Linked DNA regions of Homo sapiens. The protein of the gene in region 2 purifies or fractionates together with the protein of the main gene of each other region. This does not show direct contact. Each region holds a gene or a part of one and is shown on either strand. Other genes may lie near its edges.

What was found.
Region 1: the proteins of CEP43 (region 2) and PPP2CB purify together in Homo sapiens (affinity purification with mass spectrometry; 6 studies listed by BioGRID and IntAct, with this or other methods). This does not show direct contact.
Region 3: the proteins of CEP43 (region 2) and POTEI purify together in Homo sapiens (affinity purification with mass spectrometry; 3 studies listed by BioGRID and IntAct, with this or other methods). This does not show direct contact.
Region 4: the proteins of CEP43 (region 2) and CEP290 purify together in Homo sapiens (co-immunoprecipitation; 2 studies listed by BioGRID and IntAct, with this or other methods). This does not show direct contact.

Annotation. Positions count from the first base shown.
Region 1 is NC_000008.11:30,792,319-30,795,818, reverse strand, and holds part of PPP2CB (serine/threonine-protein phosphatase 2A catalytic subunit beta isoform), read left to right. Parts: intron 1-1,537; coding exon 1,538-1,627; intron 1,628-1,740; coding exon 1,741-1,902; intron 1,903-3,500.
Region 2 is NC_000006.12:167,026,897-167,030,396, forward strand, and holds part of CEP43 (centrosomal protein 43), read left to right. Parts: intron 1-3,500. UniProt on the Homo sapiens protein: Required for anchoring microtubules to the centrosomes. Required for ciliation.
Region 3 is NC_000002.12:130,474,829-130,478,328, forward strand, and holds part of POTEI (POTE ankyrin domain family member I), read right to left. Parts: intron 1,874-3,500; coding exon 1,803-1,873; intron 124-1,802; coding exon 79-123; intron 1-78.
Region 4 is NC_000012.12:88,135,589-88,139,088, reverse strand, and holds part of CEP290 (centrosomal protein of 290 kDa), read left to right. Parts: intron 1-2,302; coding exon 2,303-2,446; intron 2,447-3,500. UniProt on the Homo sapiens protein: Involved in early and late steps in cilia formation. Its association with CCP110 is required for inhibition of primary cilia formation by CCP110.

The DNA.
Region 1 (3,500 bases), on a different chromosome or scaffold from region 2:
TAGTGCACTAAGTTTGAAAAGCTGAATGAAGCTTACTATAGTAAAATACCAGTTATTAAAATTGGCTTGCAGAAATTCGTCCAATATAAGTAAACAACCAATAGCAACCAGGTGTAAATAGTTTTATAGGCTAATTCTACCAAACCTTTAAGGAACATATAATTTCTGTGTTCTAGAACTTGGGAAAAGATGGAGAGTTCAAAACTCACACCGTATGCCTAGTATAACCTCAATGCCAAACCAGACGTGGCACGCACAGAAAAATAAAATCAGACCAAAGTCATTTGGAAAAAAAATTCCTATATTTATGATTCAAAACTCAGTTATTTTATAAAATAATAATATTAAGTGGATAAAGAAACGCCAGTTGTACTATCAGCTAAACATTAGAAACCTTCTCATCAGGCCAGGTGAGGTGGCTCATGCCTGTAATCCCAGCACTTTGGGAGGCCAAGGCGGGCGGATCACCTGAGGTTGGGAGTTCAAGACCAGCCTGGCCAACATGGAGAAACCCTGTCTCTACTAAAAATACAAAATTAGCCAGGCATGGTGGCACATGTCTGTAAACCCAGCTACTCAGGAGGCTCAGGCAGGAGAATTGCTTGAACCCGGAAGGCGGAGGTTGCGGTGAGCCGAGATCACGCCATTGCACTGGGCAACAAGAGCGAAACTCCGTCTCAAAAAAAAAAAAAAAAAAAATCAAAATCAGAAAGAAAATGCTTGTTAAAACTTACGTTATTCTCTCTGATTCAGAATACCTAGAGCATGGACTTGAAACTAGGTAGTTTACAAAAAACAAAACAGAAAACATTTGTATTATTCCATTTTATTTTAGAAGTCCTGGCCAATGCACTAAGCAATAAAAAGAATTAAAACGTATAAACATTGAGAAGAAAAAACAAAAATAGTTTTGCAAATGACTTGATTATGTACTTAGAAAATATGAAGGAACTGAAAATTTATTGTAGCCAGTAACAGGAATCAGAGTGTTTGCTGTAAGAGAAACAAAAAATTGTATATATCAGCAATAACCAACAGAAGCTGTAATGACAGCTGGGTACAGTGGCATGCACCTGTAATCCTAGCTTCCCAGGAGGCTGAGGCAGGAGGATTGCTTGGGCCCAGGAGTTCATGGCTGCATTGCGCAGTGATCAAGGCTGTGAATAGCTACTGCTCTCCATCCTCAGCAGCACAGCAAGACTCCATCTCTACAGAAAGAAAAGAAAGGAGGGAAGTGGGGAGGGAGAAAAAAAAGAAAGAAAGAAATTTAATGGTAGGTACCAAGGATGGGGATACCATTGACCAGAGAAAAGGAAGGGAGGGAGGGAGGGGAAAAAAAAAAAAAGAAATTTAATGGTGGGTCCCCAAGGATGGGGATACCATTGACCAGAGAAGGGGTAAAGAAGAAAAAATGATGGACAAAATATGTTTAAATGTTGGCACTATTTGGACTGACACTTTTAACCATTATTTACTCTTTGTTAACTGTTTGGAGTTAGTAAAACAAATACATTCTCTTTTGTTAATTCATACATAGATATTCTGCCTCCATGGTGGCCTCTCTCCATCCATAGACACACTGGATCATATAAGAGCCCTGGATCGTTTACAGGAAGTTCCACATGAGGTAAACTTAATTTAAAAAAGAAGAAGAAAGGAAAAGAAAATATAACCACATTTTGAGGATGATAAAGTATGACTGATAATAATTTGTAACATGTACTTATTTTTCTTGGCCAGGGCCCAATGTGTGATCTGTTATGGTCAGATCCAGATGATCGTGGTGGATGGGGTATTTCACCACGTGGTGCTGGCTACACATTTGGACAAGACATTTCTGAAACCTTTAACCATGCCAATGGTCTCACACTGGTTTCTCGTGCCCACCAGCTTGTAATGGAGGTATGTACTTTCCTGACAGAATGATCTTTATTTCAGATTAGTATATACTTCTGTAATAAGGCATTATGACTTAACTAAGAAACATTCCTCACCATTTATTACCTAGGTGAAAAGAGGAAAAACTTGCTGGTTTTAGCAAGTAGGGAAAGCACTAGTAGACCAGAGCAGAATTATAACTCATTTTTGAAATTGAGACTTAGAAAAAAGTTACAAAAATAGTACCCCATAATTCCCTGTATGCTTCATTCAGATTCCTGACTGTAAATATTTTACTATATTTGCTTTATCATTTTGTGTCTCTCTTCCTCTTCACCCCTCACACTTTCTTCTGAACCATTTGAATATCTGTTGCAGACAGATACTCCTTTACTACCAACTTTCTATGTGTATTTTGTAAAATTAAGGACACACTGTCACATAACCACCGTATAGTTATCACAGTTGGGAAATTTGTGTTCATATAGTACTGTTATTTAATATGAACACTTTATTCAAATTTTGCTAATTGTCTCACTAATGTCTTTAATAGCAAAATTTAATTTTTTGTGCATACTGTATGTGCATAGTCGAATCCAAAGATTAGGTTGTATTCATTCTACTTTGATGTGGAAATCCTCCGATTTTCATTGTTTTCCACATTCTTGACATTTTGGAAGAGTAGGAGCATTTTATCTTACAGAAATATCCCTCAGTTGGGGTTTGCCTGATGTTTTCCTTGCAGTTAGGGATTCAATGTATGCATTTTTGGCAGTCATGACATAGAAAGATGGTGTGTCCTCCTCCGTGCATTGTATCAAGTGGTCCTAAAATCTGCTTGTCTCAATGCTGGTGGTGGCAACTTTAATTGCTTAGTTAAGATGATGTCTGCCAGATTTCTCCACTATAATATTAACTGTTATACAACTACTAAGGGAACATAAACAACATAATCCCTGCAGACCAGTAGGGAGTGGCTTCAAGATGTTTAGAGAAAACTTCGCCAGCCCAGTAGAAACAAGGGAGCATGATAAAAAAAACACAAATTTACATAGTAAAAATAAATTTAATTATATCAGTGATTATAAGAAAGAGACTAAAATTTTAGCCTGAAAGAGACTCTTAGATTGGATAAATAATCAAAATTTAGCTGTTATTTGGGATGTACCTAAAACATAAATGATTGGCTGGACAAAGTGGCTCATGCCTATAATCCCAGCACTTTGGGAGGCCGAGGTGGGAGGATCTCTTGAGTCTTGGAGTTTCAGACCAGCCTGGGCAACATAGTGAGACCTCATCTCTATATAAAAAAAAAAAAAAAGTCAAAAAGTTAGCTGGGCATGGTGGCATATGTCTATTGTCCCAGCTACTCAGGAGGCTGAGGTGAGAGGGTCACTTGAGGCCAGGAGGTTGAGGCTGCAGTGAGCTATGATCGTACCGCTGCACTCCAGCCTGGGCAAAAGGGTGAGACCTTGTCTCAAAAAAACGAGGAAAAAGAAAAAGACACCACAAACTAGAGGTAAGAGTTGGAAAATGGTATATTGGTATATCAAGTAATTAATCAAAATATCAAAAATATAGCTAATGAGCTGGCGTGGTGGCTCGTGCCTCTATTCCCAGCA
Region 2 (3,500 bases):
AGGGTCAGTATATATGGGTATAGAAATGGCTAGTAGGTTACCTTTGTCCAGTCTTGGCATTCAGGGAAGACTTCTTATAAGAAGTGACTTCTGTGCAGAAGCTTCATGGTTAAGTACATGTATAAGAGAGAAGGGAAGATATTTCAGTTCAGACTGAGAAAAATTTGGGCAGAGGCAGAGCCATTTGCTAGATGCTGGTAGTACATGGTCCAGGCCTCAGAGAATTCAGTCTAGTGGGGAAACAGACTTATTGAAAGAAAAATTGTGAGATGTGTTCAGTTCTGTTCTATGGAGCAGAAGTTGGTAAGCCTGCCATGTAAGTACATTCATTCCTATGGAAGTAAGAGTGTCGATGTGAACATTACCGAGCCCTGGGCCATATGTTGAGAGCACATTTCTCATTCAGTGTTCTGTTCTGTGCAAGACTGTAGCAGTGTGACAGGCATACTTTAGGCAAACTCATTTATGTAAAGGCAAACTTGGTGACCTGAAGGAAACGGTGCAGCCAGGTTCTCAATGGCCACTTCCTATGCTCTCTGTGGATGTGATGGGATCCCTTCCTGGTCTGTAATCACTCACATGGAAGCATTGGAAGAGCTTCACAGGCAGGTTAGGGAGAAAGAAAGGTGTGTCCCCATTTGCTTTTAAAACCCAGCCCTGTCCAAGGGGCAGCTCCGAGAATGCCCTTCCCTCTTCTGGAGAGACATTCTGGATAGTGCAAAGAACTTGGGCTTGGAGTTGGATAGAAGTGACATCTCAGATGTGGCACTGATTGATGGGTAGCGTAGGGAGATAAACTAAACTGCTATTTCCTCATCTGTTAAGTGGAACTAATAACATCTGCCTTGTTTTAAAGAGTAAATAGGATTTAAATATCTCTTCATATGTAAATTAAAGTACAGTGGCTGGCATGGTAGGTGCCTAGTAAATGTTAGTTTTCTTTTTACGTTACTTTTCCCCCCATTTGCAGAAGAATAAATGTTCCCTGAGCTGCCCGGATTCTTGTTCCGCACAGTGCCCTGGAGTCCTGGTAACTGAGTTGCTGGTTGTGCTGCCATCTGCTCTTTGTGCGTCCTGGTTGCTGGCTGGCCAGCTAGGTGGGCCTGCCTCCTTTCCCTCCCTTGTGCTTTTCCTGTCAGCTGTGGTCATGGTTGCCATTAGATGTTCTTTTCCACTAAATCTCAGTGGCTAACTGCCACCAGAGACTTTACTCCTGACCTCTGCACCGTGATGGCCGCCTTGTCCCCTTTGTGTTCTGTTTTTTTCACTTTTGTGGTGTTTCACTCTGTTGCCAAACCTTTTAGCTTTTTTCTCTGACTGCTCTATTCTCTTACCAAAGCGAGGGTTTTCCCTCCTGTTTCTGAGTGGGGAGCTGCCGAGAATTGTCATCCTCAGGAGGGAATGTCGTTGCTGGGGCTGCAGAGTTGCTGGGTACAGGCAGGAGGGTGGTGTGCTCCTTCACTTCACTTTGTCTTGGGACTTAGGCATATCTCGGGTTGGAATTGGGGTAGTTATGCAGGTGAGAACTACCAGTTCACTAGCTGGATGTTTGTCATTTAGCTAGGCATTAGGATTCAGTAGAAATAAAGTTTTATTTCGTTTTGCAACAATGTTGTTTTCTGTTTGGGTTGTTTACATTTTAAATATACAGTACTCTAGGTATTTTGAGTAATATGTAGACAGATGTTAGTGGACCAGCCTAGGAGAATAATGATGTTAGTGGTAAGTGCCTGGCACTGTACCAAGGAATTATTTTATTTAATTCATATCCTATGAGGTAGGTTTTATTACTATCTCCATTTTTACAGATGAAGAATCTAGGTTAAGTAACTTGCCCAAGGTCATGCTGCTTTTAGAGTCCTGATGCATCACACAGAGCCCTCACCACTGTGTTTTACTGCCTGTATGTTATTTAGACATATTGAAATAATCATTTCAATGGGAACATAAATTCTGAGTTCCAAATAAATAATCTACAAATAAAGCTTTAGAGCACCATCTATTTTAGTTTGGCAGACAAATATTAATTAAAGGTGCCCAAAAGGAGTGTTTATAGATAGGTACTTTGCATATTTAAAGCAAGAGTTGCTAAGCTTTTTCCGTAAAGGGCCAAATAGTCTATATTTTAGGGTTTGTGGATGGCATGTACTGTCTCTCACATAGTCTTTGTGTGTTTTTTTGTTTTTTTGTTTTTTAACAATCTTTAAAAATGTAAAAGCCATTCTTAGTTCACAGGCTGAACAAAAGCAGGTCATCAGCCAGAGGCAAGAATGAAAGTAAGGAAAGCAGAAGGCTGTCAGGAAGTCCGGGCCAAAGATGACTGGGGTAAGGGCAGATAAGACAGAGGGTATGGGATGGGGAGGAGAGACTGTCAAAAAATGAAGAAAACAAGAATCCTTGGCCTGAGGGCCAAAATTTGCTGACCCTTAAAGTAATGTAGTACAGGTTGAGTATCCCTTAATGCAAATGCTTGGGACCAGAAGTATTTCAGAGTCTGGATTTTTTTGGATTTTGAAATGTTTGCATTTTTCTTACCAGATGAGCATCCCAAATCTGAAAATCTGAAAGTCCGAAATGCTCCAATGAGCAGTTTCTCTGAGCATTACGTCCCCACTCAGAAAGTTCTGGATTTTATTCAAGTTTGGTTTTCAAATTTTTGAATTTGGGATGCTTAACCTGTATGTATTCTGTTAATCATTTTGACACTGGCTTAAATTATTGTAATACTAAACAATACATAACCAAGAAGTCAGAATCTGATGTGTTATAGCACATTATTCAGTAAATATCTTTGTCTCATGTGTCTGTCTGAAGAGACCACCAAACAGTCTTTGTGTGAGCAACATGGCTGTTTATTTCACCTGGGTGCAGGCAGGCTGAGTCCGAAAAGAGAGTCAGCAAAGGGTTGTGGATTATCATTAGTTCTTACAGGTTTTGGGATAGGTGGTGGAGTTAAGAGCAATGTTTTGAGGGAAGGGGTTGGATCTTACAAAGTACATTCTCAAGGGTGGGGAGAACTACAAAGAACCTTCTTAAGCATGGGGGAGATTATAAAGAACCTTCTTAAGGGTGGGGGAGATTACAAAGTACATTGATCAGTTAGGGTAGGGCAGAAACAAATCACAATGGTGGAATGTCATCAGTTAAGGCTATTTTCACTTCTTTTGTGGATCTTCAATTGCTTCAGGCCATCTGGATGTACACGTGCAGGACACTGGGGATATGATGGCTTAGCTTGGGCTCAGAGGCCTGACAATCTTGTGTTTTGAATTGGCTACAAATGCTGCCAGGTGGGGAATCCAGTTAGCTTTCTTTAAATCCACATTGCAGCCACAGCCGTCCTCGCTGTCTCAGCTCAGTGTCCACCTCTGCTCTCCTCACTGGCCTTCACACATAGGAACACTACAATGGGTCCTTGGAGGCTGACATTTTAGTAGCTGCCACTCCTGGTTTTACTTAGCGCTTGCAAACCAGCCACATATGTAGTTTGTTTAATCAGA
Region 3 (3,500 bases), on a different chromosome or scaffold from region 2:
CCTACATTTACTACACTTTGTTAAACAACATAATGTAAAAATCTAATTCAACACAAACATTTGAATATAAAGGTATACCTCTCTATCACCATCCTTATTTATTTCTGGTTCTTGAGATCTTTTCTGCAGATGTAAAAACAGAAGGTTAATTTGCTTGTTGTATTTCTGTGACATTTCCTCTTTTGGAGTGCATGTTTTTAAAATAATTTTATTCTGAAGTAATCAAGTATGGACAATAAAAATTAGAAAGTAATTAAAATTAAACTGTTTAAATAAATAATAATTAAAATTAAGAATTAACTTTTTAATCTATGTTTAGCTACTGCCACATCACTGGCTTCTAACATGTGAAAAATAATTCACCTTAGACAAAGGGAGAAGAAAAACATGAACCAGCAAACTTAACTTTCTCACTATTTGTTTGGACTAAACTTAATTTGTTATGTGTTAAATCTACCAAAAATGAATCAGCAGATGATTTGTAGTGTTCCAAAATCTTCCTCACTTGAAAAGAGTTTACCTCATGAAACCCTAACTAGTGAGCCCCTACAGTGCACTGAAGTGCTTTTTTAAAAGATTCCTAACTGGATTGTAGGCACCCTTTAAACTATTAGGAGCCGAAATCAACACCAAACAGAAAGAAATGCAAATTCTCACATTTTAATTGAAATTATATACTGTCATATGATAGTGTTATGTATCCAGATTATCTGCGTAAGTCCAGTTCTAATATATTCTAATGTGTACTAATGACAGCAGATAGAATTTTTTAATCTGTACTGATTTTCTGCAACTGAAATAAATTAGAATGTTATTGTGTTTGTGCACTAACACCAAAGGTCCCATTCTGCAAGATATGGTTCTTGTAATAGGCAGTTGGGTTGCTTTTATGACCTGGTTCCCTCCCTGAACAGAAACACTGAGGTCAACGAGAGACCACAAGGCAGGATATGTCCTTAACCTTGGTATCAGTGACTGACAATATAAAACTGTGGATTTTCAATCACAGGCCATGATTACTCTTTAACCATGAATCCAGCTCAGGGAATCAGTGTTACATTGTTCATAATTCCTATTGCTTAATAATATGATTCAATCATTGATGTTACTTTCTTTATCATGTTAGGGTGTTGTAAAAATAAAAGAACAAACAAAGTTCTGAAATTTGTTTTTGCCTCTATTCCAAAAGGAGAGATTAGCTATAAGCTAATCAAGAAGGCAGATAAGAATATTTTAAAATAAGAGTATTTTAAATTTTATAGTGGGTTATGTTGAAGTTAAATATCAAATATTAAATTAGAATCTATTGATTCTTCTGTTAAGAAGGTTGCTGATTTTATTACAATAAATTTTAAGAACCTATTAAAATATATATATATATTTTTTTCAGATGGAGTCTTGCTCTGTCACCCAGGCTGGAGTGTAGTGGTGGATGTCGGCTCACTGCAAGCTCCCTCTCCTGGGTTCATGCCATTCTCCTGCCTCAGCCTCCCGAGTAGCTGGGACTACAGGCACCCGCCACCACGCCCAGCTAAGTTTTTGTATTTTTACTAGAGACGGGGTTTCACCATGTTAGCCAGGATGGTCTCGATCTCCAGACCTCGTGATCCACCTGCCTCAGCCTCTCAAAGTGCTGGGATTACAGGCGTGAGCCACCTTGCCTGGCCAAAAGATTCTTAAAAAAACAATCTACTGATTCTCAAAGCCTAGTCTGAAAGGTAATTTCATTTGGACTATCTACTATTATTAAGGCAAAAAACACACAACATTAAACAAAAGTTTAAATTTAAAAGTTTCCATGCCTCTGGCTGGCCATTTTCACTGCCTTTAAGCCTTTGTGACTCTTCCTCTGATGTCAGCTTTAAGTCTTGTTCTGTTGAAAAATCCATATATTCAGTTAAAATCAACCACTTAGAACAGTTAAAAACTATTGCCTTTTAAAAACGGATTTGAGACATTTCATTTTATTTCATAAATTGAGTGTTTCATCTTTTGTGAAATTGTCATTTAAGAAATAATTCTCAAAAACTTCAAAAACCCACTTGGGGAGATACCAGATGTCACCAGATTGAAGACAAACAAACATGTCAAAAATTCCCTCACAAATTCATCCACCCAACATCCATGAACAAAACCACCAGAAACACAGCTTTAAAATACAGTAGAAACATATAAGGTGACACAGTGTACTGTTCTCCACTTCCTAATAGTACCTTATAAATGATTTCCAAAATCACTGCTGACACCTTTATTAGTGTACAACGTCTTCCTAATATCTAAAATGTTTCCCTCCACTATTCTGACAAATTTATTTTCTTTTTTTCTTTTTTCTTTTTTTTTTTTTATGAACCAGGGTCTTCCTCTGTCACCAGGCTGGAATGCAGTGGCATGATCAGCTCACTGCAACCTCCGCCTCCCTGGTTCAAGTGATTCTCCTGCTTCAGTCTCCTGAGTAACTGTGATTACAGGCAAGCACCACCACACCCAGCTGATTTTTGTATTTTTAGTAGAGATGGGGTTTCACCATTGGACAGGATGGTCTCGATCTCCTGACCTCGTGATCCCCTCTGAAAGTGCTGGGATTACAGGTGTGAGCCACCACACCTGGCCTTATTTTCATCTTTTGAAACAATGCTATGTGAAGTCTTCCTTGATTTTGCATGTCTTTCCCCAAATAAACAGGTACCTCCTTCCTTGAGGCTGCCTTAGTACTTTACTGATTTTTCTACTGCATCTTGACCACCTAAACTGTACATTATTCCTCCACATGTCTGTCCCCTCTGCTCCAAGACTGCAGGGGAGAGTCTTGCACATCATCTTTGTAAAAACAGTCTTTGTTTTACTCAGAAATATTTTATTGAGTCCTGCTAAATACATGCTAGGCATTAGGGTTTAAAAAGAATTAAAATAAAGCCTGTCAGAGATGGCTTTTCTAGAACACATGCCCAAGCAGAGACTTAAATATTGAGACTAGCCAGATTAAAAGGGGTAGAGGGCAGGAAAGGGTGACGGCATACCATGCAGCAGCAAGAGCGGGAGCGAGGCCTGAAAGAGTGAAAGTATTTGCCTACAATAGAAGGATGAGTGAGTAGGGCATTGCCAGCAGCTCAGTAATGCCAGAGACAGTGCACACAGGGAAAAGGGCTAAAGATGGAGAGTGGGGCAGAAGTCAGATTATGAAAGCCTTATGTGTAATTTTAAGATGCTTGGACATTAATGTTCAAAAGTGGTCCCGGGTCCTATCTGCATTTAGATATAGATCATTTCAATGCCAAAACCAATATTCCTAGTGAACAATTATTCATTAAGACAAGGTGACAGATAGCTCATGTGGACACAGCTGAGATGATACAATGTAGCAAATACTAAACAATTCTCATGAACACTTGGAAAGTCAGTTCTATAATAAAGTCATACAAATTATACTAAATCAGTAAATATTTGGTTTGGGAAGATGCTTTGTAAAGTTATAGTGCATATGAATACAATTAACAGTCGTG
Region 4 (3,500 bases), on a different chromosome or scaffold from region 2:
TTTCAAATTTTAAAATTATTGTTGGCTGGAAAAATTATAAGGATGATTGTAATCATGGTTATTTGTTTATTCTGTATATGTTCTACATGCCTATTATGTGCCTTATATAGTACTAAGGACTGAGCATATGGTTGTGAACAAAATAAGAAGTTAACTGCTGGATGGAGCTTATAGTCTTGGGAAATATACAGAAAGATTACTAGTAACTGAGGTGGAGGGTGGGTGGGGATTTGAGGAATAGTGACGAAAGGGTGTTATAGAAGTAATTTTTGACAAAGCTGAAGGCTAAAATATGAATGTATTGTTGAAGAACAAAATACATTGAGATTCCTGAGAAGGTAGGAATGTGATACAAATGGATCAGCCTTTGAAAGGAGGAATACCCTTTTCCTTTGTGTTAGGAGAGGAGGATGAGTGGATGAGCGTGGGAAGAGTGGATGTGTATAGAGGCTTTTATGTTTGTAGGCATAATGCTTGGAAGTTGAGGGGTTGGTGATGACATCTTCTGTTAAAAAGAGTGGGAAATGGTGTGGTCACATTTTAAGGAAATTAGGTAAAATTTGAAATATATTGGAGACAGGACTGGAGAGTTGGGGATCTGGAGTCAGACAGATTTGAGTTCTAGTCCTGATTCTTCTACTCGTTAACTCTCTGAACTTGGATGACCTATTGTTTTTGATTGTATATCCAGCTCCTGGGAAAATGCCAAGCACTTTCAATAAATACTAAATGAATTATGGAGTTGGATCAGTTCTGTGTTAGTGTTTAGCTAGGTAGCTGCTGTAGAATAGAAGGGTAGCACAGTTGAAGATATTGGTAGGAAAGTGGTTGAAGTGATGATTATGAAGTCTTAACTGAATAGATAAAATCAAGATTGGGGTTGGGTGGGCAGAAGGGTAGGGATATGGAGGGAGAAGATGAGGGGTTAGAGTGTCCTGTGAGGTCGAAGGACAGGCATAGTGGGAATAATTGAAAGAATGTTCTGGTTGGACAAGGATCTGATGTGGGTGTGGGAGTGAGAGACTATAGTGAATTCAAGAAAAAAATAGACTAGAACAAAAGTTATGTGGAGATTGCTTAGTGGGCATTTGATAGACATCTGTGGGCCACATGCTTAAATTCCCAGTGCATTTTGCGGAGTTACTGGAAGGTTGGTGGCTTGTTTCTACCATGAGTAGGTAAAGATGGAGAGCAGGATATTTTGTGAGAAAGCAGCTGAAGTTTCTATAGGATGATGGAGGAATGATAGGAATGATCACCTGAAGTTGCAGGGTGGGGTAAACCTAGAAGCACCAACACCTTCTTCTGACCCTCATGTATTTGGAATCTGAAAGAATGAGCACCTTCCAATTGAAAGAGTTCCAAGGGCATTAGTATACTAAAGGATCCAAATTGCAGCTAAGCCAAGGAGATGGAAAGGAGGATTCAGTAAAGAATCTGAGGATGTGAAATATTAATTTATCTTGGAAGAGAATTTTAGAGAGCACAATGGAATGCTTTTTGGAGGAGAGAAAGAGTAAGAACAATTTGGTTAAGGTAGAGGAATAACAGAACTATAAGGTGAAGAAATGAATGTGAGACACATTAGATGACCAAATGATTTGATGTTCTTGGCCATGACCTGAATTAACAAGACTGTGAGGTAAAATGGATTTAATCGGCTACAAATCTTAAGATAACCAAAACCTGAGCTGTTTAATATGGTAGCACTAGCACTAACCACTTGTAGCTATTTATATTTACATTGGTTAAAATTAAAATGAAAAATTTAGTTCTTCAGTTGCACTAGCCACACTTCAAATGCCCGAACATAGCTACATGTAGCGAGTGGCTATTGAACTGGACAGCACTGACAGCATGTCCATTATGCTAGAAAGTCCTATGGGACAGCACTGGTCTAAACAGTGCATGGTATGAGAGAAAGGGCAGGTTAAGGCACTCAGCTTCACTGACTGGGGTGGAGATTCTGATGGTTTGTACTCAGGTTCCAGATCCCTGAGGCTCAGGAACCTTTGCAGTTTAGTCTGGTTACCTGTGGCCCAGTGGTTACAACAGAATGATTAACAGTCAATTCTTTGCATCTCTGGGTGGCTCAGGAAAAATTTAAGGAGTTATTAGCTGTGAACTAACCTTAAGTAAGTTAAATTAAAAAAAAAAAAGTTCTTAAGCTAATATGATTTTAAATATCTGCACTGAAGTATAATGCAAATTTAAATTCAGCATAATTATTTGCTTGTTGTTGACTCATTTGAACCTCAAAATATAATGGGATTAATTTATACTTTGGGTTTATTACTTTAAGATGGCTCAGCAGTCTGCAGGTGGACGAGATACTCGGTTTTTACGTAATGAAATTTGCCAACTTGAAAAACAATTAGAACAAAAAGATAGAGAATTGGAGGACATGGAAAAGGAGTTGGAGAAAGAGAAGAAAGTTAATGAGCAAGTAAAGCACTTTTTTTTTCCATGAATCTTCACTGTTCAAGTTACCTGGCTTTTTATTATTATTGGTAACAATATCAATTTTTATATTGTATGTTATATTTGAAAAATGATGTACACTTATCTCTAAGGTTTTATATCACTGTTCATTTTGTCATCACCAATTTTAAAATATAATGGTACTTCTAGTGAATATGACTTGAAGATTAATTCTTTATATTTGGAAGTACATTTTTCTCAGGACATCAAACTTGTTACCTAAAATTAATGCTTTTGTCTGGAAGATTGGTATCAAGTAACTAATAGATTTTCATAAAGAAGTGATCTTTCTAGTGCCATAGTTTATTTTGGGTAAAAGTTATATTTGTTCATTTCAATGTATTTATATGATTAGTAGATTCGCAAATGAATCTTTCGATATATTCAATAATGGTTAATTAAATATCTTGTTTTTGGTTGTACCTTATTTTATGTGAGATATATATATATATGTATAGTTTTTGAAAAGTTGTGTTCATGTCAGCAGTTTATAAATCACATATTTAAAATAACATTTTTAATGCATAGTTTTTATTACCTCGTTATTCCTTGTTATAAACTAATAATTCTTGCAGTGTTCACTTGAATTTAGTTTTAGGAAAAAAGTTTTTTGCAGATCAACTTGTATTTCCTGGAAGAAAATTTCCTATTTTACCTCAGCTTCCTATTTAATGTATTATTTATTTATTTACTTAACATTTATTTGTTTTTTATTTCACCTGAACTGTTAGTAAACTTAGTAAAATTTGGTGCCTACATGTGGTAACTGTCCTGTCCCTTATACTCAGAAACGTTTTCCACCTTTGTGTCCTTTAGGTCATTGTTGTGTTATATTCCATTTATTTTATTTTGTCCATTGTTCTCTCAGAAATTGAGGGTCATACATTTTAAGAAAACAATGATATGCTATTTAAGAGAATGTATCATAAATTGATTTGTAAGGAAAAGTATCCCCATTCTTCATGTATGTATTTTACTCTAAAATGTTGAAGAATCATATAGAAGTTAGCTATGAAAAC